Linked DNA regions of Homo sapiens. The protein of the gene in region 1 interacts with the protein of each later gene in a biochemical or structural test. Each region holds a gene or a part of one and is shown in the gene's direction. Other genes may lie near its edges.

Region 1 (3,500 bases):
ATTTTGTAAAAAAAAATCTTTTTTTTGGTAATCTCGTAAGAAAAAAGTTTGAAAAAAGTTCTTTTGTTATTTTTCACTTATTTGCTTTTGTCAGTGAATGATTCAGTTTCTTAAATTTCCTGCTGATTTTAATTTGTTGCCTTTTGGTTAGGTGTGTTGGCTTACGTCTGTAATCCCAGCATTTTGGGAGGCTGAGGTGGGGGGATCACCTGAGGTCAGGAGTTCGAGACCAGCCTGGCCAACATGGCAAAACCACCTCTCTACTAAAAATACAAAAATTAGCCAGGTGTGGTCACACATGCCTGTAGTCCCAGCTACTCAGGAGGCTGAGGCAGGAGAATTGCTTGAACCTGGGAGGTGAAGGTTGCAGTGAGCTGAGATTGTGCCACCACATTCCAGCCTGGGCAACAGAGTGAGACTCCATCTCAAAAAAAAAAAAATTGGTTGCTTTTAGTTTTGTTTTGGATCTGTATTATAAAACAGTTTGTTATGATTGTATCTTATATCTCTTCTATTTCTGACAGCACTCAATTCTGAGTGAGGCCTGAGAGCTTGACATCTAAACATTCAGAGTTTTAGTGCATAGACTTTGTGATGATTATTTGGATACTCAGGGACCTTTATTGCTTACTATTTTGTTATCTGCTATATGTATAATTGTCATATTTAACAAAATCTGGCACCTTTAGATAAATGAGATGTTACATAATTTAAAAAGGTAATACTTTTCTAATTCCTTATTTCCACTTTCTCTTTATTTTTAGAGTATGCCAAGATGGAAGGAAGCCTCATACAGTGAGATTAATAATCCGTCGGTATTCCTCTGAGAAGCACTATGGTCGTGAGAGTCGTCAGTGCCCTATTCCTTCACATGTAATTCAGAAATTAGGGACAGGTATGGACTAGTTTTCCAACAGTTTCATTAGCAGGTTGAACTCTTAAATAAGCCAACTTTGAATGAGAAATATGCTCCAAAAATGGAGGGTCTTCACAGGGAATTAGCAAGCAATTAAATGCTTTTATTCTATCAGGAATTTTCACTGGAAAACTTTGTTGTTTGTTTATTTATTTATTTATTTTTTGAGACAGGGTCTTGCTCTGCACCAAGGCTGAAGTGCAGTGGTGCTGTGATAGCTCACTGCAGCCTTTGTCTCCCAGGCTCAAACAATTCTTCTGCCCCAGCCTCCCGAGTAGCTGGGACAGTAGGTGCATGCTACCAGACCTGGCTAACTTTTTTGATATTTAGGATAGACAGGGTCTCAAACTCCTGAGCTCAAGCAATCCTTCTGCCTCAGCCTCCGAAAGTGCTGGGATTATGGGCATGAGCTACTGCACCTGGCCTTGTTTTTAAATAGATAATTAAGTAAAGAGTCATTTAAGAATGTTTTCCAAGTTCAAAGAGAACAAAACTGTGATAACTGTATAGCATGAGATAACTTCTTTATGGGCATTTAGATTGTTTCCATTTTGAAGAACATTTAAATGCAAGTCATTGGATGGGCATATGCATATGTTTTCATTTATCTTGGGTAGATTTCAAAGAGTGGAATTGCTGGATCATATGGTAACATGAACTGTTTAAGAAGCTGCCAACTTTTTTCCAAAGTTTGTGTATTAATTTACATTTTCATCAACAATATTTGAAGGTTCCAGTTTTTCATATTTTCGCCAATATTTGTATTATCAGTCTCTTTGATTATAGTTGTTCTAGCGGTATATAGTAGTGTGGTTTTTCTTTTATGGATAGTGTTTTTGGTGTTATATGTAAAAATTCTTTGCCTAACTCAAAGGTCACAGATATTTTTTTCTGTTTTCTGTTAGAAGTTTTATAGTTTTTAAGCTTTATGTTTAGGTCCATTTTGAGTTAATTTTTTTATGTGTGGTATACGGTAAGGGTCTTCATTCTTTGCTTTGCATGTGGGTATCCAGTTGTTCCTGCATCATTTGTTGAAGACTATTCTCCACCCACTGAATTACCATGACATCTTTGTCAAAAATTAATTGACCATAAATATAAGAGTTTATTTCCTGACTTTCTTGTTTCATTGGTCTATATGTTTATCCTTAACACTGATTCCACCCTGTGGTGGTCTCTGCTGCTCTGTTTATTTTTCTGTAGTCTTTTTTTTTTTCCGTTTTTTCTTACAAAGTGGATAATTTGTATTGAGCTGCCTGTAAGTTCTCTGATTCATCTGTCATCTCATAACCGCTGTTGCCCCTGTAGTGATTTGTTGGTTTTGGTTACTGTACTTTTTAACTCTAGAATTTCTGTTTGTCTTTTGTTTATATGTTTGGTTTTGTTTCTTTATCAAGATTCTCCTTTTTTTGTAGTCATTATATTTTACTTTAATTCTTTAAACATGGTTGTCTTTAATTCTTTGGACATATCTATAATAATGAATTTGAAGTCTTTGCTAAGTTCACCTCAAAGTCAATTTATGTTAACTGCTTTTCCTCCCAAATATGTATCACACTTTCCTGTTTCTTTGCATGTTTTGAACTATTTTATTGAAAACTGAACCTCATAGATAATGTATTGTAGCAACTCTGGATTTACAATTTTTTCTTGTAGGGTTTTTTCTTTTTTGTTTCCTGTACTTCTTTTTAGGTAACTTGTCTGAACGTAATCTGCAGAATTTACCTCCCCTGTGCTGTGTAGCCACTGATTTCTCTGCTCAAGTGTTTTTTTTTTTTTTTTCCATTCAAATTTTTATTTTAATACTGGCTTCTGGGAAGTTGCCCATGTCTGTATAGTTTCATGGTTAGCCAGTGATTGGCAAAGGTTTTGCTCAAACACTAGAGTCTGGAAGCCGTCTACCTCTGCCAGTGGATAAGTGTATGGGTTGGAGAGGGCTTAAAAAATTTAGGCCATTTTCCCATACTGCCCAAAGTAATTTATAGGTTCAATGCCATCCCCATCAAGCTACCACTAACTTTCTTCACAGAATTGGAAAAAAATACTTTAAATTGCATATGGAACCAAAAATGAGCCCCTATAGCCAAGACAATCCTAAATAAAAAGAACAAAGCTGGAGGCATCATGCTACCTGACTTCAAACTATACTACAAGGCTACAGTAACCAAAACAGCATGGTACTGGCAGAAAAACAGAGATACAGAACAATGGAACAGAACAGAGGCCTCAGAAATAACACCACACATCTACAACCATCTGATCTTTGACAGACCTGACAGAAACAAGCAATGGGGAAAGGATTCCCTATATAATAAATGGTGCTAGGAAAACTGGCTAGCCATATGTAGAAAGTTGAAACTGGATCCCTTCCTTACACCTTATACAAAAGTTAACTCAAGATGGATTAAAGACTTAAATGTTAGAACTGAAATCATAAAAACCCTAGAAGAAAACCTAGGCAATAGCATTTAGTACATAAGCATGGGCAAAGACCTCATGACTAAAACACCAAAAGCAATGGCAACAAAAGCCAAAATTGACAGATGGGACCTAATTAAACTAAAGAGCTTCTGCACAGCAAAAG
Region 2 (3,500 bases), on another chromosome or scaffold:
TGAATGTGAAATCCTGTGTTTCCCAAGTGTCCATGTCACCGTCATGAGAGGATCAAGGAGAGGACCTTGTTTTCTTTCCCCACTCACACCCTGCCTCAGCACAGGCCCAGTGAGAGAGACACACTCAGGAGCTCTCACATAACAAATGAAGGAATGGAATGAAGAAATGGATGATCCAAAACCTCTTTAGAGACTGGATCTTGGAATCAGAATCCTAGGAGGTTCTAGCCACACCTGTCCCTTGTCCTTCAGAGGCTGACACCCATGTTTCATCCCCCCACTACCTCTTGACCCTAAAGCCACCCCACCTCATGCAACTCTGAAGTTCTTTGGCCACCGGAGGGTTCTCAGGGCTCTTTGGTCCTGGACTGTGGAGCTGGGGGCACCTGGTCCCTGGGGTTTTTGAAGTCAGTGTCTCCCTCACTGCTCACTGCCATGGTGTCTCTGCCTCTCTCTGCTTCTCTGTGTCCCTCATCTTCCTCCCACTTCATTCTGACTGGCAAGCCCTGTCCTGCACAGCTTCTTCCTCCAACCCTAGGCCTTCCCCAGACACTCCCTCTAACTAGGCTGGCTGTTCTGTTCCCTTCCCGCTAACACTGTGGCCTGGCCCACCTCCCAGGAAATAGGAAAGGTGCAGAAATCACCTGGAGTTGCCACTCCTGCCAGGCTTCCTCTCGAGCCAATGTCCCCAGGTCACTAAGAGAAACCTTCCACTGTATTCCCATCCAGGGCTCTTTCCCTTTGTGAGGCTGACCTGTGGACAAGACCATGGGACAGGGATAGGCAGTTCCCCCATCCACCCTTGTAATTGCCAGACAAGTTCCTCTGGCCTCCTGCACACAAAAAAATATAAAATAAAATAAAATTTATTGAAATGGTGGTTTGCAGTAAAGAAAGATTTTAAGAACTCCAAGTCTGCCAAACAGGAGGGTGGAGGTTTATTATTACTCAAATCAGCCTCCCCAGTGGATCAGGTGTTAGAGATTTTCAAGGATAGTTTCAGGGGCACAGGACTAAAAAATGAGTACTGCTGATTGGTGATGGAATCATGCGGGCGGAGGGAAATGATCTGTTAGTGCTTGAATCTGCCTCTAGGTAGGGGCCACATGACTGGCTGAGCCATTAGGCATAGGTATGGATGAGGTCAGCCGGTTGTCAGAAGGCAAAAGAATGAGAAACATTTCAAAAGACCAATCTCACGTTCTACAATAGTGATGTTATCTATAGGAGCAATTATAGGAGCAATTAAGCCCATAGGCTCATTTCACCCATTTCACTAGTGACTCCATCCTCAACCTGCTATGGAGCTCACATTCTCCGGTCACTTTCTAGAGACTTCTGGCTTCCTGTCAGGCATAAAACAAGCTTGAAATTTGTCACTCGGTTCTAACACTAAGTAAAAAGCTGAACAAACTCAAAAGTCAACAACTCATTAAAATCCTTCAGAGATGGCTGGGCACAGTGGCTCACGCCTATAATCCCAGCACTTTGGGAGGCTGAGGCGGGCACAAGGTCAGGAGATAGAGACCATCCTGGCTAACATGGTGAAACCCCGTCTCTACTAAAAATACAAAAAATTAGCTGGGCATGGTGGTGGTCACCTGTAGTCCCAGCTACTTGGGAGGCCGAGGCAGGAGAATGGCATGAACCCAGGAGGTGGAGCTTGCAGTGAGCTGAGATCATGCCACTGCAGCTGGGGTGACAGAGCGAGACTCTGTCTCAGAAAAAAAAATGCTGTTAGAGAAATGAAGAATGCTTTTGATGCTTACTGATAGACCGCACAGAGCTGAGGAAAGAATCCCTAGCTTGAGAATGTGTCAATAGAAACTTCCAAAACTGAAACAGGAAAGCTCAAAAAGAGTGGGGAAAAAAAGCGGAACAACATATTCAACTTCATATTTAATATTTTGTTTTGACAATAGCAATTTTTAAATTTTGTAGTTGTGGGACAACTACAAAGGCTGTCACATACACTTAACGGGAATACTTGTGGTTTGGGGACCAGATGGAGGTGGCCAGGTAGGTCCTATCTCATGGTTTTACTGCCTGTGCCACATACAACTATTTCCTCATGATGATGCCGTTTTCATAAGTTGGAGTTCTTCGTGTGGGGAGACACAAGAGCCATTGGCATCTCACTTAGACTCTTCCTAATTCACACAAACTTAAATTTTAGTGGTGTTTCCTGACCTTAAGAGAAAATGAAGAAGACATTTCACATACCTGTTTTGGGGTCCTCCCCATGTTTTGTAACTCTGCACAGAAATTAGAAGCAGGTTCTTTCTATATTTACTAACATAACACACATCACTTCTTTTAATTTGGCATCCTTCCTCCTTTTATGTAATTGACACACTAACCAGTTCGGTCCTTTTAACAGGACTCTCTCTACTTAAGGAGTTGCTAATTTCAAATCACCTTTGGCATCTTTCTTTGAGCATAATGTGATCCTGCTGGAATTCATGGCACACCTAAACCTTATTTTGGTCTCAAGAGAAATATGACTACCAGCAATTGATCTTAGATGTTTGGACCATCAGTAAAAATTTCCACTTATGAAAACATTTTAAGGTTTCCTCCAAATTTTTTTTGTTACTAGAGTCAGAATATAACATGAGGTCTAAACTCCTGACAACTTTTTATGGGAAAATTACAGTATTACAAATTGAGCATCGGAAATCCAGAAATCCACAATCTGAAATGCTCAAAACTCAACACTTCTGACCACTGATGTGATGCTAAAAAGAAGTGCTCACTCGCGCATTGTGGATTTTAAATTTTTCAGATTTGGGATGCTAAACCAGTACATATACTGCAAATATTCCAAAATAAAAAAAATTAGAAATCCAAAACACTTTGTTTTAAGCTTTCTGCATAAGGAGCACTGTATCTGCATGAAGTATAGGCACGAGGCTGCACAGGAGATCTCTAGAACCTCCTCATCCTGCATAACAGAAACCGCACACCCACGGAACAACGCCCTATACCCGTGATTTCAGTTGCTGCAAACTACTATTCTAATCTCTGATTCCCTCTGGAATCCACTGATATGAGGTACATAGAGTAGTCAAACTCAGAATCAGAGAGTAGAATGTCTAATAAGAGAAAGTATCTGCAAGACTTCTTCCCAAATATTGGTCTAATATCCACCAAACACATAAGGTCCCTGAGGGCCAGACTTCTGTCATCTGTTCATGTTTGCCCTTTCCACCAGTCAGTTCTGCATTTGCAAACATCAACATGTATTTCTAGAAAGATCCATATGGTCCTCAACTGCCCTCTACAGGGGGAAGGGAGCATCATGGACCCAGAACAGGGATCATGGTCTTGGGCCAAACCTATCAGCTCTTGCCTGTCCCTTTCACTCTTTGTAGGTCATTCCTTGGACTCTGCTCTATCTTTAGAGTCATTGGCTCAACTCAGTCACTATGAGACACCTGGAAAACTGCCCCACCTTGTGGCTCCACTGCCTGATGACTGAACTGACCTCCAGGCCTGAC
Region 3 (2,736 bases), on another chromosome or scaffold:
GCTGCAGTGAGCCAAAATCGCGCCAGTGCACTCTAGCCTGGGTGACAGAGCAAGACCCTGTCTCCAATACAAACAGAAAAAGGAAGGGAGGTTGGGCAAAGGTGGACTGAGGGTCCACACTGACTGCACCCTCACTCCCACATTGTGCTGGCCCTGGGGCCACAGGTGAATGGACGTGGTCTTTGCCCTTAAGTCAGCACCCATGTAGGGTCAGTCCTCTGTGCTTCCTTATCCAGGGGCTGTGATGATGAAGGAAGGAGAAGGCCAGGGCTATGCTCTGTGATGGCTGTCATCCTGCCTTCCAAAGCTACATGTAATAGACACACTGCTTTGTCCCTCCCCTGCCCCTAGGACGAGCGGGGTTCCGCAGCTGACTCCGAGGAGTCCCCAGCTATTGAGGCAATCCATCTGTTGAGGAAGACCTTCCCCAACCTCCTGGTGGCCTGTGATGTCTGCCTGTGTCCCTACACCTCCCATGGTCACTGCGGTGAGTTCCCTCCCTCCCACCAGCCCTGCTGCCACCCACACTCCTACTGCCCACTTCTCAACAGGGTGGGGACAGGCCAGGGCCCAAGGTGCTCCCCAAAACCCAGTCATCTGTCCTGAAGGGCTCCTGAGTGAAAACGGAGCATTCCGGGCTGAGGAGAGCCGCCAGCGGCTGGCTGAGGTGGCATTGGCGTATGCCAAGGCAGGTGAGTGAACCACCAGCAGGGATGGGCACCTCTGGGTCAGGAGGTGGCAGAGTGGCTAGGAGGGCCCCAGAGTTCTGAAGGCCACCCTCTGCCCCCCAGGATGTCAGGTGGTAGCCCCGTCGGACATGATGGATGGACGCGTGGAAGCCATCAAAGAGGCCCTGATGGCACATGGACTTGGCAACAGGGTAAGGGCAGGGAATGCAGCACAGGGCTGGCAGGAGATAGTCTGCACCAGCCCTGCCCCCGTGTCTGCTAAGAATCACAGAACTGCCGGGCGTGTTGGCTCACACCTGTAGTCCCAGCACTTTGGGAGGCTGAGGCAGGTAGATCACTTGAGGTCAGGGGTTCAAGACCAGCCTGGCCAACATGGTGAAACCCCATCTCTACTAAAAACACAAAAATTAGCTGGGCGTGGTGGCAGGCGCCTGTAATCCCAGCTACTGGGGAGGCTGAGGCAGGAGAATCGCTTGAACCCACGAGGCAGTGAGCTGAGATCATGCCACTGCACTTCAGCCTGGATGACAGAGCTAGACTCCATCTCAAAAAAAAAAAGAATCACAGAACTGAAGACAGTGCTGGATGAGGCTTTGGGGAACCATTTAAACCTCTGGGCCTCTGCAGGGAAATCAAGCCCAGCACTCCAACAGGACCAGAACACAGGCAGTCTCCTTCCCAGCCTAGGTTCTTTCTCTCCCTGCCACATCACCCTGGGATACCTGGCAAGGGCCGAATAAGCCAAGACCTCCATTGTCTCCCCATAGGTATCGGTGATGAGCTACAGTGCCAAATTTGCTTCCTGTTTCTATGGCCCTTTCCGGTGAGCAGGGGTGGGCAGGGGTCTGCTGTGAATCCCTGGCCCTTTGGCCCAAAGCTGGAGCCCACCCTGATGACTCTGCTTTGCAGGGATGCAGCTAAGTCAAGCCCAGCTTTTGGGGACCGCCGCTGCTACCAGCTGCCCCCTGGAGCACGAGGCCTGGCTCTCCGAGCTGTGGTGAGTGACTAGGACTTGAGCCCCACCCTCAGCCCCCTCCTAGGCACCACCCACATTATACCCTCATCCCTTAGGACCGGGATGTACGGGAAGGAGCTGACATGCTCATGGTGAAGCCGGGAATGCCCTACCTGGACATCGTGCGGGAGGTAAAGGACAAGGTGAGCACAGGTACGAGGCAAAGGGGGCTCAGGGGGCTGGGACAGAGTTTTCCACAGACTCTGGAATCTCAGAGTTGGAAGCAGTTTGCCCTTAAGCATGCATCCTCTCCTCCCCTTCCCTGCCCAGGAACCATCGTGGCCTTCTATGTCGGGGCTTGCACGAGCCTCAAACAGCCCTGCTTTAACAGTTCAAGAGTGGGCCAGGCTGCCAGCCGCAGTAACCCAGGACACGGGGCTCAAGATGGTCACAGATTGAGCAGGGGGGAAGGGACGCTTCCAGAGCCACATCCACCCTCCATTTCAGCCTGTCTCCCTGTCTGCTTCCCTGCAGCACCCTGACCTCCCTCTCGCCGTGTACCACGTCTCTGGAGAGTTTGCCATGCTGTGGCATGGAGCCCAGGCCGGGGCATTTGATCTCAAGGCTGCCGTACTGGAGGCCATGACTGCCTTCCGCAGAGCAGGTAGGCAGGCAAGGGTGGGGTGTTTTGACCTGCGCCACAGGGACTGATAAGCACTCTGCCTAGATTGGGGAACGACGTCCTGAGAGCTTGGGATCTTATTCCGGGAATTACTAGTGATCTAAACAGACACACACTGAGGAAGAGATATGGAACTGCAGCATAGAACACGGCCCGGTGAAGCAAGCAGAGCCCTTCATTTTTGGTTGTGAGAACGTGGGCAAGCCACTTCTCTGAACCTCAGTGTCCTCACCCATAACTGGATAACTGGGGATAAGATACCTGGTGCGTGGTTGTCCTGAGGATTAAATGAAGTAATATCACTCCATAAAGGGGACTCATTTTGTTAGAATTGCACACCAGCATGGGAAGGAACTTGCCTCTTACCTATTTCCTTCACTGTGCATTTTATTCTTTGGTAAACTGAGGCC
Region 4 (4,170 bases), on another chromosome or scaffold:
ACTCAGGAACTTCCCACTGGCAACCAGTGTTACCCGGGTCTCACCGATCCCGGGTGAACAGTGGTAATAGGGAGGAAGATGAAGGATAGAACCATTGCACAGCAGCCTTTTGCAATCATCTAGTCCTTTAGGAACAGTTCTGCTGTGCTGTTTAGTCCTCAGGCCACACTGTGAGAACAAGTTACAGAGCACTGTGGTGAGTGCTGAATGAGTCAGGGAGTAGAGATAGGAAGAGAGAGAGAGAAAGGGAGAGGGAGAGAGAGACCTGTAGGTACATAGAAAAGGCAGGAAGCAACATATGTCCTTGACTCATTTGATACTGCACTTTGTTCCACTTCCCAAGGATTCAGTCACTGCAATTTACCTTTAGCATTCCAGGCAGATAGAATCCTGCTCTACATATGAATCTGGGCACAAAGCCATGCAGGTGTGAGTAAGCCCATGAAGGAAGTGGCACTCAAAGACTCTAGGAGTTCAGGCCAGGTGCAGTGGCTCATGCCTATAAGCCCAGCACTTTGGGAGGCCGAGGTGAGTGTATCACCTGAGGGTGAAACCCTGTCTCTATAAAAACACAAAAATTAGCAGAGCATGATGACGGGTGCCTGTAATACCAGCTACTTGGGAGGCTGAGGCAGAAGAATCACTTGAACCCTGGGAGGTGGAGGTTGCAGTGATCTCAGGTCATGCCATTACACTCCAGACTGAGTGACAGAGCGAGACTGTCTCAAAAAAAAAAAAAAAAAAAGACTCCAGGAGTTCTAATATGCCCCATTAGGTGGGCACCAGAATGGCCCCTTGTAACTTTTTCCTACCTTCTCCTCTCCTAATTCTTTTTCTGTGGAGGAAACAATAATTGTCTCTGAATCATCCCTATTCGGAGCATTGAGGATATATTAGAAGGTCTGGGTAAACAAGCAGAAATATTGCAAAAGTGCTAAAACATCAAACTTCAGGGTCGAATTTGTGGTTTGCTTCTGCTTTTTCTATCCACTCTAAAGGTGTTCCTGATAGAGAAGCTTCCTCAGTGTTCCCTGTGTTGGTGTGTAAGACAGAAAGAAGATGGGGTAAAAGAGTGCACGCATCCTCCACTACAAACCAGAGGCTGATAGCATTAGGGAGAAGCTAGGGTTTGGCCTCACACAAGCAGTTTGCACTGTTGTCCAATCCCAGGTGGGGTGGTTGCCTCTTCATTTCCTTTGATAGCAACCGCCTGTTGCGTGATGTAGTGTGGGTGTCCTCAGAGGTAGCTACCTAAGTTTGCATACTTCCTGACTGACAGAACACTCCTGCCAGTGCCTCCAGGCCAGGGTGGTGGTGTTGGTGGGAGGAGTAAGTAACCAAGTTTCACTTCCTTGCCTTGGAGACTCAGAGCCATAGCAGGCTGCTGTCTCACAGAGCGAGAAGGTGTCAGGAGCAGCCCAGTTGTGTCTCTCTCTCTACCTCTGTGAAGGGCGCGAATGGGCAGAGCAGAACTTCTAGAAGGGAAGATGAGCACCCAGGATCCCTCAGATCTGTGGAGCAGATCCGATGGAGAGGCTGAGCTGCTCCAGGACTTGGGGTAAGGCAGCAGATCTCCTTTCAAAGTACCTAGTGGGTGGACATTGACTCCGCACTCCCACCTGCATGCTTTGATTAATGACTATCTTCAGTGCCTTGTTGCCCTCTGCCACCTCAACCATTTATTTTTTTCCACTTTATTCATTTGTATCTGTTAAGTATCTTCTTGTCTGGGGCTAATTCCATTGGAAAAGCAGGCATTATTTTTCTAGATGTGAAAACAAGTTGGTTGAGAAAATAGGGAAAAAAATCAAATGTTGGACATTCTTTGAGAAGAGGGACAGAATTGGGATATAGAGGTGATGTTGCCTGGCTTCCTTGATGTTGCTCTGGTTTATGAATAAATGCGCTGTTCAAGAGTTTCTAGCACTGACCCAGGGACAGTAAAAGGACTGTGTTTCTGGTAAGATAAACAGAAAGCTTACCCTACTGTAAGGGAGAGGGACTTTTTCAAAAGACAGAGAATGAGGAAGTTCCTGCAACAGTCTCGCTTGTATATTTCTTTCTCCTGATACTGCATTTGTGAGATTTGATATCGTATGTATGTCCAGAGAGCCAACTTTGAGCCTTTCAGTACCAACAATCCAGGAAGAGGATAAAATTTCTGCTTCAAACAGGTAAGCATAGGTAGGTGGAGTCATTGGAGCTCTGTCTTTAAGAAGGGACCCAGATGACAACTCATCCGGGTATTTAATAAGAAACAAGTATTACACAAGAGAGGAATTGGGGATTTCCCAGAGAAACTGCCTAATGCACTGGGAATATCCCAATGAAGGTGGCTTTGACACCTGTGCATGAGGAGAGGCAAAACCTTTACCTTCTGCCTGGACAAATAGCTCTAACTCTTCATAGCAATCCAATGACATAGGAGCTGTTGTCATCTTCATCTTACAAAGGATGAAAACAAGTACCAAACAGGTTTGAATAACTTGCTTGCTAGTCACACATCAATTACATAGCAAAGCTGGGCATCCAACCTACCACAGGCTATGTCCGAAACCAAAGAAAAACCAAAATAGAGTTGAAATCTCTCTGTGTTAAGGCTGCAGAGATTGTATCTTTTTATGTTGTATTACTGTAAAAGTTTATTAATAATTCCTGTCTTTAGATTATAAAACTGAGGTCTCGGAATTGAACTCTACTTTCATTTGGCAAATCAGATAAAACACCTGGAATTTTCATTAAAGAAAACTCCCCTTATTAGGAAGCCAGAGCTCTAGAATCTCTCTATCCCTCTAGATTGAATCCCCAAACAGAAGAGGTAAAAGGCCCTTCTGTGAGCATCCAGCACAGGTGTCACCAAGTCCAAAAGCTAAAGCTGAACTGTGGCCCTCAGTGTCTTATTGAACTATTAAGTTACAATGCTTTACATGTTCTGTTAACTGTATTCCCAGCCCACTGTAATAGAAAACCCCAAAGGAGGAGATAGAGGAATATATTCAATTCTGGTCCTTTAGTTAAACAAACAATCCTAGAACCCAGAGTCTATGGTTGAGTACTGTGGGAACACACTTAGATGACAAAGATGAATTAGATGCTGTCTCTGTGCCCCACCATGATGTCAACAGCAAGAAGCAACTACAGGTGAAACCCACGGGTGGAATAGGACTGTGTCTTTCCTCCATGTGCAAAGAATAGACATTGAATACAAAACTGAGTCACACCACTTCCCTGCAAAAAAAAAAGGGTACATTCATGGCCAGATTTCCCTATTTCAGAAGGCGTGAACAATTAATAAACATGAGGATGATTTCTATAGCAATGGGCAACCTGCAGTTATCTGGGAAAACTGCTCTACAGTCCTGGTTCTTGACCTTGGCTGTGCTCTGGAACATCTTGACACCCAAACCACAGACTTGACAAATGATTTCAGTATCTCTGGGGATGGGTGTTTTCTTGTCAAACTCTCCAAGTAATTCCAAAGTGAGACCCTAGGTTGATGATCACTGCATAGAATATGTATCTACCAAATGCATTAGGTAAATGTGGTCTTGTTTTTCATTTTAAGTCTGTTGGGTGTGTACTTGAATCTTAAAATTACTAATAAATGTTGATATTTTGTTTGTTGGTTTAGGGGCATTTCGATTAGCAACTTTATTGAGGTTATTTTACATATCATAAAATATACCCGTTTCAAGTGTACAATTCAATACTTTTGACTAACTTTACAGAGTGATACAACCATCACCATAAATCAGTTTTAGGACATTTCTGTTCTCCCAAAAAGAACCCTCAGATGTATGGCTTATTTAAGCATACTCAACAGTGTGCTGGAAAAACAGCTGGGAAGAGTTGGGGTGTGGAGAAAGCCCTGATTTCAAGAATTTGCCTAATTCCCTGGTATAAATACTCCCACTATAGACAATTTCAAGCTGCCAACAATTTAACATCATCGAATTGAATATTTAATAATCAACTTGTGCCAGTACTTGCTCCTGCAGCACCTCACTGATACATTTTTTATAGATAACAATTTGAGAACTCTTGACAATGACTTGTTGCCTCTGCCAGAATACTGAACATAACTCGAACATTATAATGACTTTTTCTTTGAACCTTTAACCACTGGCGAGATAGAATCTCTACCAAACCTTCTGATTAATTTAGTTTCCA
Region 5 (3,500 bases), on another chromosome or scaffold:
GTGTGAGTTATGGTGGGGAATAGAAGGGAAATTTCTACTTGATTAAAGTTTTGTGAAGAATGTTTCTGGCCTGCTTTACTTTTGCCTTAGTTACTTGGAAGGGGAGACCTTAATTTGTTAGCAGTTTGTGCTCATTTAAAATATCTTGTGCCAAACCTAGGGAGGCCTTCTTTTCATTGTACTGGTGGGGCATCGGTGAAGTTAAATAACTCGTCTGCTCACACTGCTGGGGTAAGGATGAAGCTAGGGTGGGACAGGTGCTTTGACTGCAGAGCCACATCCTTAATCCCTGTGCGGGCTGCCTCTGCAAAGCCCACCAGCTGGCAAACTCAAAGTGGCCTCTAACGTCCAGCCCAAGAACCACCTTTTGGAAGCTTTTCCTCACACTTGTCCTTGCCCAGTAAAAATCTTTGATGTACTTCTTGTAACTTCTGACAGAAACTGTGGGCTGTAAAGGCTGTACTTACAGTCATTTGACACTAGGTGGCATCTGTTTCTAGAACCGTGAATGGCTGTTTGAGTCCTAGAGAAAACAGTAACAAAGAAAGCATCCTTGATTTTATTTCTAGGCACTGCTAGGTAAGCAGATGGATCAAATGTGGAGAGATGGGGGAAGCAGGCATTTTTTGTTTTCTTCTGGAAGTTTTTTTGAGGACTTTCCCTCAACAACCCCATCAGTGAAAACCTTTGTTTTAAAATAACTACTGAGATGAAGACATGAAGTCTTTCTTACATGACATCCCTCGTCGTAAATACGTATTGAATGTGATATTTAAGAATGAAGCAGTATTTTCTGTGATAAGGCAATTAGGAGTTTCTTACATGTCTGGCTGTAGATCAGTAGCCAAATAAGTAAGTCTAAGAATTGCGAACGTCTGGCCGGGCGCGGTGGCTCACGCCTGTAATCCCAGCACTTTGGGAGGCCGAGGTGGGTGGATCTCGAGGTCAGGAGATTGAGACCATCCTGCCTAACACGGTGAAACCCTGTCTGTACTAAAAATACAAAAAGTTAGCTAATTGTGGTGGCGGGTGTCTGTAGTCCCAGGTACTCAGGAGGCTGAGGCAGGAGAATGGCTTGAACCCGGGAGGTGGAGCTTGCAGTGAGCTGAGATCATGCCACTGCACTCCAGCCTGGTGGACAGAGTGAGACTCCGTCTGAAAAAAAAAAAAAAAGAATTGCGAATGTCTGATCATAAACTTACCAGTAGTGGATAGTTTGCTCCTTAAAATGTTTTGCTCAATGAGAAATTCTAATAGTTTCAGTTTTTATTGTAAGTTTTAATATAAATAGAAAAATGTTCAATTACAATGCTATTCAGGAAGATCATGGTTATCTGGCCTAGCAAGTGTGTGAGTAATCAGAGGTGTAATTAAGAGGCTGGCTCTATTTTCAAAATCTATATAACTCAGTAGCTGCATTTTATACCTTCAGTTGAAGGATAGTGTATGATTTAAACTTTTTATTTATTTATGTTTTTAAAGGTGAGGTCTCACTCTGTCACCCAGGCTGGAGTGCAGTGGCATGATCATAGCTCACTGCAGCCTCTACCTCCTGGACTCCCATGATCCTTCAGCCTCAGCCTCCTGAGTAGCAGGGACTGAAGTTGCGCAGCAGCACAACTGGCTACTTGTTTTTTTTGTTTTTTTTTTTGGTAGAGATGAGGGTCTCACTTTGTTGCCCAGTCTTTTAAAACTTGTTTTAAATACACTGTTTTAAAAGTTGTTTAAAATCTTTTTTCCTGTGACATGTTGGAATTTTATGTATTTTTGGAGTGTGGTAACTGTAAAGCGTTTCTACTTTGGTTTAGTTTTTCATAATCTCTGTTATGTGGTCACTGTAACAAATTCCATAAACTTAGCGGCTTAAAACAACAGAAATGGGCTGGGCACGGTGGCTCACACCTGTAATCCCAGCACTTTGGGAGGCCAAGGTGGGCGGATCACTTGAGGTCAAGAGTTCGAGACCATCCTGGCCAACATGGCGAAACCCCATCTCTACTAAAAATACAAAAATTAGCCTGGCGTGGCAGCAGGTGCCTATAATCCCAGCTACTCAGGAGGCTGAGGCAGGAGAAATTGCTGGAATCTGGGAGGTGGAGGTTACAGTGAGCTGAGATCGCACCACTGCCTCCAGCCTAGGCAACATGTGAGACTCTGTGTCAAAAAAAAAAAAAAAAAAAAAAAACCGGAAATTTATTCTCTCACGGTTTTCGAGGCCAGAAGTTCAACATCAGTTTCACTGGGCCAAAGTCAAGGCGTTGGCAGGGCTGTGGAGGGAAGCTGCTCTTTGCTTCTTCCAGCCTCTGGTGGGCTGCAGCATTCCCTCACCTGTGGCCACATCACTCCAGTCTGCTTCACCTTCTGTACTTTGTGAGGTGTCAAATCTCCCTCTGCCTCTTATAAAGTCATTTGAGTGGCATTTAAGGCTTACCCAGATAATCTAGGATAATCTCTTTTATCTCAAAATTTTTTATAACATCTTCAAAGACCATTTTCCTTATAAGGTAGCATTCACAGGCTCCAGAGATTAGGAGCCGATGTCTTTGGGGGCCGTTTTCCACCATACTACAGTCTGCTTTAGAGCTGTTAGCTCAACAAGTTTAGTCTTTTTCAAAACTTAGTGATGGTGTCTGTGGCCATCGTTTTATTCTGAAAGGGCAGTGGGTGAAGCATTCTACCTTGGTGGTAGGTAAACTGCTCAGCTTCAGACGCTATTCTCTTGGTGGCCTGAGTGAGGGCATTACCACCTGAGGGTACTTGGGAAAGCTGTTGAATTGGGTGAAGCAAAATGCATCCAAGCTTGACCCTATGAAAGCTAGAGAAGGAAAGTAGGAATGATAATATCATGGACATTTGTAATTATTTTAGGAGTATAGAGACGTATTCTTTGCTATGGAGTTGATGGTTCTAGATACCTGATTACCATTTGAATTAGCGTGACAGCTCTAATTTTAAAGTAAAGGCTCTGCCTTAGGTAGAAGCATAATTGTGAATTCAGGGAAATGAAAACCCTGAGGCCTTTCTCTTTTCATAATACTAACACCCCGTTGAACTACTCTGACAAGTCACCTAGCTTCTCAGGTGAGACAACAATGTTTATAGGAGCAAGTTTTAAGGTTACAGGTATGAACGTGAATTCGTGGTAGTTTTCTAACAAATTAGCAACTGAGAAATTGCCCTGTCAAGCAGTGTTAATGGTGTTATGATGGAATATTGGTCACAAATGCTTCTGATAGCTTTGCAGGGCTTCTTTTATTGGCCTCATCGCTGGGATTGATACCATAGGATTCCGTGGAGCCTTAGTTATTGCAATATTGATTGCAGACGGCTTTGGAATAGCCATTGATAAAGACCGATTTGGAATTCTTTGATGTCAAGTCCTTTTGTGATTTCACATTTAGGAGAAAACTAAAAACCGATTCTGCTTATGTGTAGCAGTTGGTTTGAGAATAGAAAGGGAAGGTGATATGAATGGACCTATGTCTGGTCTTGTGCTGGAT
Region 6 (4,250 bases), on another chromosome or scaffold:
TGGGAATACAGTCGTGAGCCACCGTGCCCTTCCCAAGCTCTATCTAGACAGTCATTCCTCTTGGGGGATGCCAGCTGGGGAGAGCCTGGAGGAGGGCAAGCAGGGAGATGGAGGTTTCTCTGTGCCCTGCAGGGCAGGCCACTGGAGTCCAGAGGATGAGCAGGGAGGTTCTTGCAGGGATGACAGGAACCCTGGGGAAGTTTATCTTGGATTTTGGCCAGCAGCTCCAATCCCAGGGCTCAGGTGGGGCGGCAAGGACACACAGTGTCAGCGCCTGATGAAATCCCTGAGGTCACAGAATATGGTGGCTCCATCTTCCTTCCAGGGCTGTGTACTGCTTTTGGAGACATACAAAGTGTTTTCCAATATTCCCAAGGGAGCTTGTGGAAAATGAAGATTCCAGGCCTGTAATCCAAGCATTTTGGGAGGCAGAGGCAGGAGAATCACTTGAGCCCAGGAGTTCAAGACCAGTTTGGGCAACATAGCAAGACCCCATCTCTAACAAAAAAAAATTAGCCAGGGCCAGGCACGGTGGCTCACGCCTGTAATCCCAGCACTATGGGAGGCCAAGAAAGGTGGATCACCTGAGGTCAGGAGTTGGAGACCAGCCTGGCCAAAACGGTGAAACCCTGTCTCTACTAATAATACAAAAATTAGCTGGATGTGGTGGTGCGTGCCTGTGGCCCCAGCTACCCGGAAGGCTGAGGTGGAAGGACTGCTTGAGCCTGGGACTTCAAAGCTGCAGTGAGCTATGACTGCACCACTGCAGTCCAGCCACGGCAATTGAGTGATACCCTGTCTCAAAAACAAAACGAAAACTAAACAAAACACAGATTTCAGGGTCCAGTTCCCTATAGGATTCTGGTTCATTCCATCTGTGTTGGGGCTCAGGAATTTGTGGATCCAGGGCCATGAGTTAGGAAACTGAGAAATCTTGGAAATGATGAGACAGGCTTGGGCAAATGACCTTAGGTTTCACCTTTCTGAGACCCAGTTTCCACCTCTGTAAAATGTGGATAGTAATCTCGCCTTCTGGCCTTATGCGGAGGGTCCCACGAGAGGGAGCCTATAAAGTCTTCAAGAAAGCGGTGCAGCAGTTATGATCACTGACATTCTTCCCCAGCAAATGAGCCCCCGGAGCTGGCATGCAGGATTCGAACCAGCTCACCTAGCGCGGGATTCGAACTCGCGAAACTACTCGCGCCTTCCTGACGTCACGAAGTCACCCTGGAAAGCCGCTCTTCGCCCCGCCCCCGGCCCCGCCCGCGCCCGGAGCCCCGCCCCACTCTCCTGGGCGCAGCCTACCCCGCTGCCTGCCCCGCGCCCCGCCCCCGCTCCGGCCTCCCGCAGCCGGGGCTCGCGATTGGCCTTGCCGGGACGCCAGGGCCCGCCCCCCGAGTGTCGGCCCCGCCCCCGCAGAGGGGAGCGAGCGCTCGCGGGCCGGGGCGGAGGGTTCGGCTGCGCGGCGGGGCTGAGGCGGCCGCGGGGCCCGAGCGCAGGTAAGGGCGCCCGCGAACCGGGCCAGGGGAAGTGAGGGCGCGGCCGGCGTCCCGGAGAGGGGACTGGGACAGCTCGGATTCGGCTGCGGACCGAGTTGGGGGTCGGAGTCGGCTGAGGAGGGGGGCTGGGTCTGGGGACCCGGGCTGCAACTGGAGGCTGGGGTTGGAATTGGGGACGGGGCTGCGCTTAGGGGGTCGAAGTTAGCTGGGGAGGGGCTGGGGTTGGGGATTGGGACTGCACTTGGGGCTCAGGGCTAGCTGGGGAGGGGGCGGGAGTTGCAGGTCGAGGTTAGCTGGGGACGGGGCAGGGGGTGCAGATCGAGGTTAGCTGGGGAAGGATTGGGTCTGGGCATTGGGACTCCACTTAGAAATCAGGGCCAGCTGGGGAGGAGGCTGGAGTTGCAGGTCCAGGTTAGCTGGGGAGGGGGCTGGAGGTGGGATTGGAGGTCTGAGTTAGCTGAGGAGGGGGCTGGGGGTGAGACTGGAGGTCTGAGTTATCTGGGGAGGGGACTGGAGTTGCAGGTCGAGGTTAGCTGGGGAGGGAGCTTGGAGCGGGATTGGAGGTCTGAGTTGGCTGGGGAGGGGTCTGGAATTGCAGGTCCAGGTTAGCTAGGAAGGGGCTGGTGGTGGAATTGGAGGTCTTGAGTTTGCTGGGGAGGGGGCTAGAGTCGCAGGTCGAGGTTAGCTGCCGAGGGGGCTTGGAGTGGGATTGGAGGTCCAAGCTAGCTGGGGAGGGGGCTGGAATTGTAGGTCGAGGTTAGCTGGGGAGGGGGCTGGAAGTGGAATTGGAAATCTGAGTTAGCTGGGGAGGACGCTGGGGATGGTGTTGGGGGTTGAGGTTAATTGGAGCGGGGAACAGGGGTTGAGTCAAGGGTGCAGCTTCTTTGAAGAGGGAGCTGGGAGTGGGGTTGAGGTTTGCAGGGAGCTGGAGAGGGGGCTGGGGATGGAGTTTGAAGTGGGGTTCATTGGAGAGGGGGCTGCAGAGGGAATTAGATGTTGAGGTTGTCTGGGGAGAGGACTGAGGAATGGGGTTGGTGAAGATGGGGGGGTGTGATTGACGGCCCAGGGGTTAGGGTTAGCTGAAAAGGGGCAGAAGGACAAAGCTGGGGTGAGCCAGGGAGTGGCTGGAGCATACAGGTGGGGGTCAGGCTTGTTCCAGAAAGGGTCTGGGGGCTATCAGGGGAAATGGGGAGCTTGTGAGTGTGTGGGGTGGAAGGGGGTTCAGGGAGAAGGAAGTTGGGGTGAGTTAGTGAGAAGGGAGGTGGGGGTAAGGTCCCAGGCTGGAGACACCTGGGGGCAGGTGTTTTGCTAGACATTGACTAATCAGGAGGAAAACGGGGTGTGGGGAGGTGTCTCAGGTAGGATCCAGTTAAAAGGAATTTGGAGAGGACTCACCCCTCTACTTTTGGGGGAGATGTTAATTGTTTGCTCTAGAACTGGGCACGGGGCAGAACCCCCTGGGGAACAGTGAGTTGAAGGAGACGGGAGTTCGGAATACTTTTTGAGGTTTATTTCTAGGATATAGGGTGCCAAGGAGAACGCTTCAGGAAGGAGAAAGGCTCCTGTCGGTGACTGAATTTTTCAGGAACTAAAGTGGGAGTTTTTGGGACGGTGCTATTGAGCGACGTGGGTGGCACTTTATTTTTCCTGGGGAGCGGGGGTTGCTAGGGGTTGGGAGGTGGGCGGTGGAAGACAGGCTTGATGAACAGAGGCAGCGGATCCCCAGCTAAGCGTCTTCACACGGTTGCTAGGTGTCAGCGAGGCAAATGCCAAGTTCACAAACTTGTTCCCGTCGTGGGATGCTGCGATCTTGCCTTGATGGAGTGTCGGGGGCCTCTGGGAGGTGCGCCTGTGTGTGTTCCGACCCAGCCTCTCGCTGCGGATTTGGCTGTATCATCTTTTGGAGGTGTTGTTTACTCCCCTGCAAAGCGGGAATAATAAAAACAGTAGCATGTGCCTCTCAGGGTCGAATTACGGGATGTATGCATGGACTATTTCCTAGCATATAGTGAGGGTACCTGAAGCATGGAGAATAATGGACTCAATCCAGTTTTTTTCTTTGGTGGGTTTGGAGATGGAGGAGTGGGATGACTGGGTTGTCACAGAGGAGAGGAAAGGAAGTGACTGGAACTTGACTCTAGTCCTGCAACCTTAGGAGCACACATCAGGGTCACCCCCAGAAGCTTTAAAAAATAACCTGCATGGCTGGTTGTGGTGGCTCATGCCTGTAATCCCCGCGCTTTGGGAGGCCGAGGCGGGTGGATCACCTGAGGTCAGGAGTTTGAGACCAGCCTGGCCAATATAGCGAAAACCTGTCTCTACTAAAAATATCAAAAATTAGCTGGGCATAGTGGCGTTTGCCTGTAATCCCAGCTACTTGGGAGGCTGAAGCAGGAGAATCGCTTGAACCCAGGAGGTGGAGGTTGCAGTGAGCCAAGATCACGCCATTGCACTCCAGCCTGGGCAACAGAGAGAGACTCTGCCTCAAAAAAATAAAGGAAAAAAAAAAAAAGGACTGCAACAACAACAAAAATATGTCTTATTATTATTGTTATTATTATTATTATGTTGAGACAGAGTCTCAAATATGGAGCCTGTTTCCATATTATTAAAAGTGAGTAAAAAACTGAAAAGAAAGAAGACTTTGCCCACACCTGGTGGCAGGAGAGTCTCAAAGCTCGTTAAGTAACAGATGCACCTGTTCAAGAGAAGGCTGCCTGGGTCATTCTGATTAGGGGCACCCCGTAAGGA
Region 7 (3,954 bases), on another chromosome or scaffold:
GGACAAACCCGGGAAAATGGCCAGTGGGGTTGAGCAGGACACAGGTCCTGCTGTGTCTAGCTGGTTCCCCAGAGAGATGATAAGGGGTGCGCTCCAGCTTCTCAGGCTCACTCAGGCGTGAGGACGTGGAGCTCAGGGCTCTGCAGGAAGGAGCGACCCAGGTGAGGTGTGGTCAAGATAGAGCAGAGCTGGGCAGCGGGCAGTGGAGCCTCGTGGGCAGCCTGGGGGTGGGGAGGCACAGTGCACTGGGAAGTGGAGAAAGTGTGAGTCCATCAGGCTGGCTGAGAATTGATCACGAACCTATTGTCTGTAAAACTTTTGTTATTTCCTGAGACGTGGTTCACAGCAACCCAGGTGCGAACAGCCTTGTGATTCTAGGGTTCTTTTCTATTTTTTAAGCACTTGCATCTACAAATAAATTTCTGAGTGACTTGTCGTCAGCTGCTTTCCTTGATATGTCTAAAGACAGGGCAGTGACCCGCATCGTCACCCAGAGATTCTGTCTCTGTGCCACATGAAGATTAGGTGCCCGCTTTTGATTGAGGAGCTCCTCTGTTGCTCTCAAAGTATCTTGTAATAATAGCTGAGATGCATGGAGAACCACCTCTCCTTCAGGCGCTGCTCCTCGGCTTCCGTGGACGGGCATGGCTATTTCTCGGAACCCTCTGAGGTTAGAGCTGTCATGGTCTTTCTTCTGAAAGAGGAAACCGAGGCTTGCTGGGGCTCAGTGGCCCTTCTGTGGCTGCACAGCTTTCGGGGTGGGGCCAGGACTGACTGACTCCACACAAAAGTGCTCCCGGCCCATGTCTTTAACTCACACGGCCTCTTGCAAACGTTCCCAAATCTTCCCAGTCGGCTTGCAGAGACTCCTTGCTCCCAGGAGATAACCAGGTAAAGGAGTATGAAAGTTTGGGTACAAACTCATTGCTGCAAATTGAAAACCATGCAAAGGCTGTCTTCCTCTGGGGAGTTCAATGCCTCTCTTTTTCTTATCACTTTACCATTGGTTGGACTTTGATTCCAGGGATCCTACGATTACTCAATACCCTACAGGATATACATGGTTAACCATTTGCATTTGGGCAAATAGGCGTTACTTTTCAATAGGAAGTGGCAATCCAGAACTTGCTTTTGGGCAATTCTAGTAGCTCACCGCTTTTTTCTTAATGACTGCTAGAAGCTGCATCTTATTGACAGATGGTCATCACATTGGTGAGCTGGAGTCATCAGATTGTGGGGCCCGGAGTGAGGCTGAAGGGAGTGGATCAGAGCACTGCCTGAGGTGAGCATGCCAAGGCCCCTGAGACTTTTCTTTCAAAAATGTAACTTCTTTGATCCCCTAGTCTGACAGGAATGGGACTGTTTTACTCATTAATCTTCCAGAATGCTGGCATATTGACCATGTTTATGCTTAACGACACAGACTTCCTTTCCTGAAAGCATTGACTTTATGGTTTTAGGAAGCCCACTTTTCCTCTAAGTGTATAGTAAGGGATTTCATACTCGCTCCCTGCACTGGAGCTTCGGTGATGGTCTGGGTACTTGCTCCTCATACAGGAGATATCCTCAGGGCATCAGTCTGGAGAGGAATGTGATTCTTTATTTGATCAAATACACTGAAAGATTTTGGAAAACAAAAAAATTAAGCTAAGAAATATTTTGGAGGCAGTAAGTCATTTATGCAATGAAGGCTGATGAGTGGGCATCCCGGACAGCCTAAGATTGAGCAGGAAGGAGCTTGTGAGGGGGAGTTAAGAGAAATTGACAAGGTGGAAATTTCAACAAGTCTCAGTTGCAAAGCTCTCATGAGGGCTGCCAATGCCACTGTGATTATGAAGGCAGTATCTTATGACCAGAAAATAATACACAATGATATTAAAGGGAGCCAGGCTAGGTGCAGTGGCTCATACCTGTAATCTCAGCACTTTGGGAGACCAAGCTGGGTGTATCAGCTGAGGTCAGGAGTTCGAGACCAGCCTGGCCAACATGGTAAAATCCCGTCTCTACTAAAAATACAAAAATTAGCCAGGCATTGTGGCATGTGCCTGTAATCCCAGCTACTTGGGAGGCTGAGGCAGGAGAATCACTGGAACTTGGGAGGCGGAGGTTGCAGTGAGCCGAGATCACGCTACTGCACTCCAGCCGGAGATCAGCTCCAAAGTCCACTTAGCAGCAGGACATAGATATTGTAGAGATCAGCTTTATAAAGAAAAACAAAAATGCAAGGCCATAACTAAAGCTATTCTTTAAATGGTTAAAGATGTAATTTCTGCAAATAAAACAGAAAACATAAAAGCAAACTTCCAAAGAAATTAAAGGAACTGAAAAAAAAAAAAAACCAACCCACAGAAGCTTAATAAACAAATCACCGGGGGAAAACAAAAAAAAAATCAAACCTCCTGGTCTCCTCCTTAGCCACTCTCATTCAAAAGCAGAAGGAAGCCAGCCTAGAGTTTCAGCTCCACTGATGCTTATCTAAAAAGGTATAAAATATGGTGGGCCCATGATTCAAATAAACTTAGAGAACATAAATGTATTGAACACCTACCATTACAGTATGCAAAACTCTGATATCAATAAGATGTTTTAAAATAAATATATTATTTAAGATCTTGTGGGAATTCTATGGCATTTCACTAAGACCTGCTGGTGGCAAGGTGAATTAGAACGGCGAGTAAGAGACAGTAATGGGAGTCTCACCAGTACTCACAGTCCTAGATGAGCTACACTCGCTATCTGTAAAATGGGTATGATGTCTACCTTAAAGGGTTTTGTGAGGTTAAAAGAGATAAACAGCTGTAAACCAGTGATTCTAATGCCTAGCAGGTAACTAGAACTTAATTTACAGCATATGCGCGCACACACACACACACACATATGCGTGCATATATACATACACACACGTCCATATGTACACACACACAGTTATACACATACTGCACACACATGCATGCATACACACATGTATGTATACATGCAGGCACCAATATACACCCATGCACACACATGCAAATACACACATACACATGTATACACACATGTGCACACCTATATACACACATGCATACACATGCATATACACATACATGATATAAACAGGTGTATATATGCAGGCATATGCACACTGCACACATGCACACATGCCTAGACACATACATACACACACACCGACATATGCACACACACACACATACTCTTATTTAGTTCTTGCTCCTTGTTTTGCAGGGCCACTACTATTTATGAAAGTAAGCACAAATTTAAAACTGTCTGACAATTGTAACACATTGTTAAGCTAGTTATTAAATGTTTTTAAATTACAAGTCCACACAGTTTTTATTACCAGTAATATTTTCATAACTATTACTAATGTTTTCCCCATATTGAATTTTCTTGGACAGAGTCTGTCCTTGGCCAAAGGGATGATCAATGGCAGTCGGTCTGTTGCTTGGTCCCCCCAACCCCTGCTCTTCTTGGGGAGCCCCCCACCCACAGCTCTCACCGGCCTTCCCTCTTTGCTACCACCACAGAGCCAGCCAGTATTGGTCTCCCTGAGAGTGTGTGCTGTGGCTACCCACCTCTTCTGGGGCCATTTGCCTGTGATTAGAGGACTCCCAATGCCCTCAAGTCCAAAAACATGGTTTTCTCTAAGGTAGAGGCACCGTTGAAGGCCGGGGGGAGATGAGTGTGGCTGTGTTTGGAGAACTGAACACGGCCTTAAATCCTATAGTGAGGGCAGCCCCTCCCTCTTTCTTCTGGTTCTGCTTTTTAGCAGAATGTATAATTAGGTGTTCTTTTCATTTCTAAATGAATTAGCCAATTAATTATTACTTTCTGAGATACTCTATTGCATATTGTACCTAATAAAAGTTGTACTAGGAAGCCACATTACTTTATTGCAATAAAAATTGCAAAAAAAATTGAACATTTTAAATGCTATGTAAGAAATATTATTCT

The links.
Region 2: the proteins of POLI (region 1) and PSG6 form a complex in vitro, tested with the Homo sapiens proteins (one large-scale study listed by BioGRID).
Region 3: the proteins of POLI (region 1) and ALAD form a complex in vitro, tested with the Homo sapiens proteins (one large-scale study listed by BioGRID).
Region 4: the proteins of POLI (region 1) and DAPP1 form a complex in vitro, tested with the Homo sapiens proteins (one large-scale study listed by BioGRID).
Region 5: the proteins of POLI (region 1) and KMT5B form a complex in vitro, tested with the Homo sapiens proteins (one large-scale study listed by BioGRID).
Region 6: the proteins of POLI (region 1) and GNG7 form a complex in vitro, tested with the Homo sapiens proteins (one large-scale study listed by BioGRID).
Region 7: the proteins of POLI (region 1) and CCR6 form a complex in vitro, tested with the Homo sapiens proteins (one large-scale study listed by BioGRID).

What each region holds. Positions count from the first base shown.
Region 1 is NC_000018.10:54,286,517-54,290,016, forward strand, and holds part of POLI (DNA polymerase iota isoform a (long)), read left to right. Parts: intron 1-764; coding exon 765-895; intron 896-3,500. UniProt on the Homo sapiens protein: Error-prone DNA polymerase specifically involved in DNA repair. Plays an important role in translesion synthesis, where the normal high-fidelity DNA polymerases cannot proceed and DNA synthesis stalls. Favors Hoogsteen base-pairing in the active site.
Region 2 is NC_000019.10:42,911,395-42,914,894, reverse strand, and holds part of PSG6 (pregnancy-specific beta-1-glycoprotein 6 isoform b precursor), read left to right. Parts: intron 1-3,500.
Region 3 is NC_000009.12:113,388,549-113,391,284, reverse strand, and holds part of ALAD (delta-aminolevulinic acid dehydratase), read left to right. Parts: intron 1-351; coding exon 352-487; intron 488-608; coding exon 609-692; intron 693-791; coding exon 792-880; intron 881-1,456; coding exon 1,457-1,512; intron 1,513-1,598; coding exon 1,599-1,686; intron 1,687-1,760; coding exon 1,761-1,847; intron 1,848-2,178; coding exon 2,179-2,308; intron 2,309-2,736.
Region 4 is NC_000004.12:99,815,457-99,819,626, forward strand, and holds the start of DAPP1 (dual adapter for phosphotyrosine and 3-phosphotyrosine and 3-phosphoinositide), read left to right. Parts: upstream 1-1,370; 5' UTR 1,371-1,457; coding exon 1,458-1,558; intron 1,559-4,170. UniProt on the Homo sapiens protein: May act as a B-cell-associated adapter that regulates B-cell antigen receptor (BCR)-signaling downstream of PI3K.
Region 5 is NC_000011.10:68,203,297-68,206,796, reverse strand, and holds part of KMT5B (histone-lysine N-methyltransferase KMT5B), read left to right. Parts: intron 1-3,500. UniProt on the Homo sapiens protein: Histone methyltransferase that specifically methylates monomethylated 'Lys-20' (H4K20me1) and dimethylated 'Lys-20' (H4K20me2) of histone H4 to produce respectively dimethylated 'Lys-20' (H4K20me2) and trimethylated 'Lys-20' (H4K20me3) and thus regulates transcription and maintenance of genome integrity.
Region 6 is NC_000019.10:2,699,895-2,704,144, reverse strand, and holds the start of GNG7 (guanine nucleotide-binding protein G(I)/G(S)/G(O) subunit gamma-7), read left to right. Parts: upstream 1-1,450; 5' UTR 1,451-1,499; intron 1,500-4,250. UniProt on the Homo sapiens protein: Guanine nucleotide-binding proteins (G proteins) are involved as a modulator or transducer in various transmembrane signaling systems.
Region 7 is NC_000006.12:167,121,942-167,125,895, forward strand, and holds the start of CCR6 (C-C chemokine receptor type 6), read left to right. Parts: upstream 1-1,154; 5' UTR 1,155-1,282; intron 1,283-3,954. UniProt on the Homo sapiens protein: Receptor for the C-C type chemokine CCL20. Binds to CCL20 and subsequently transduces a signal by increasing the intracellular calcium ion levels.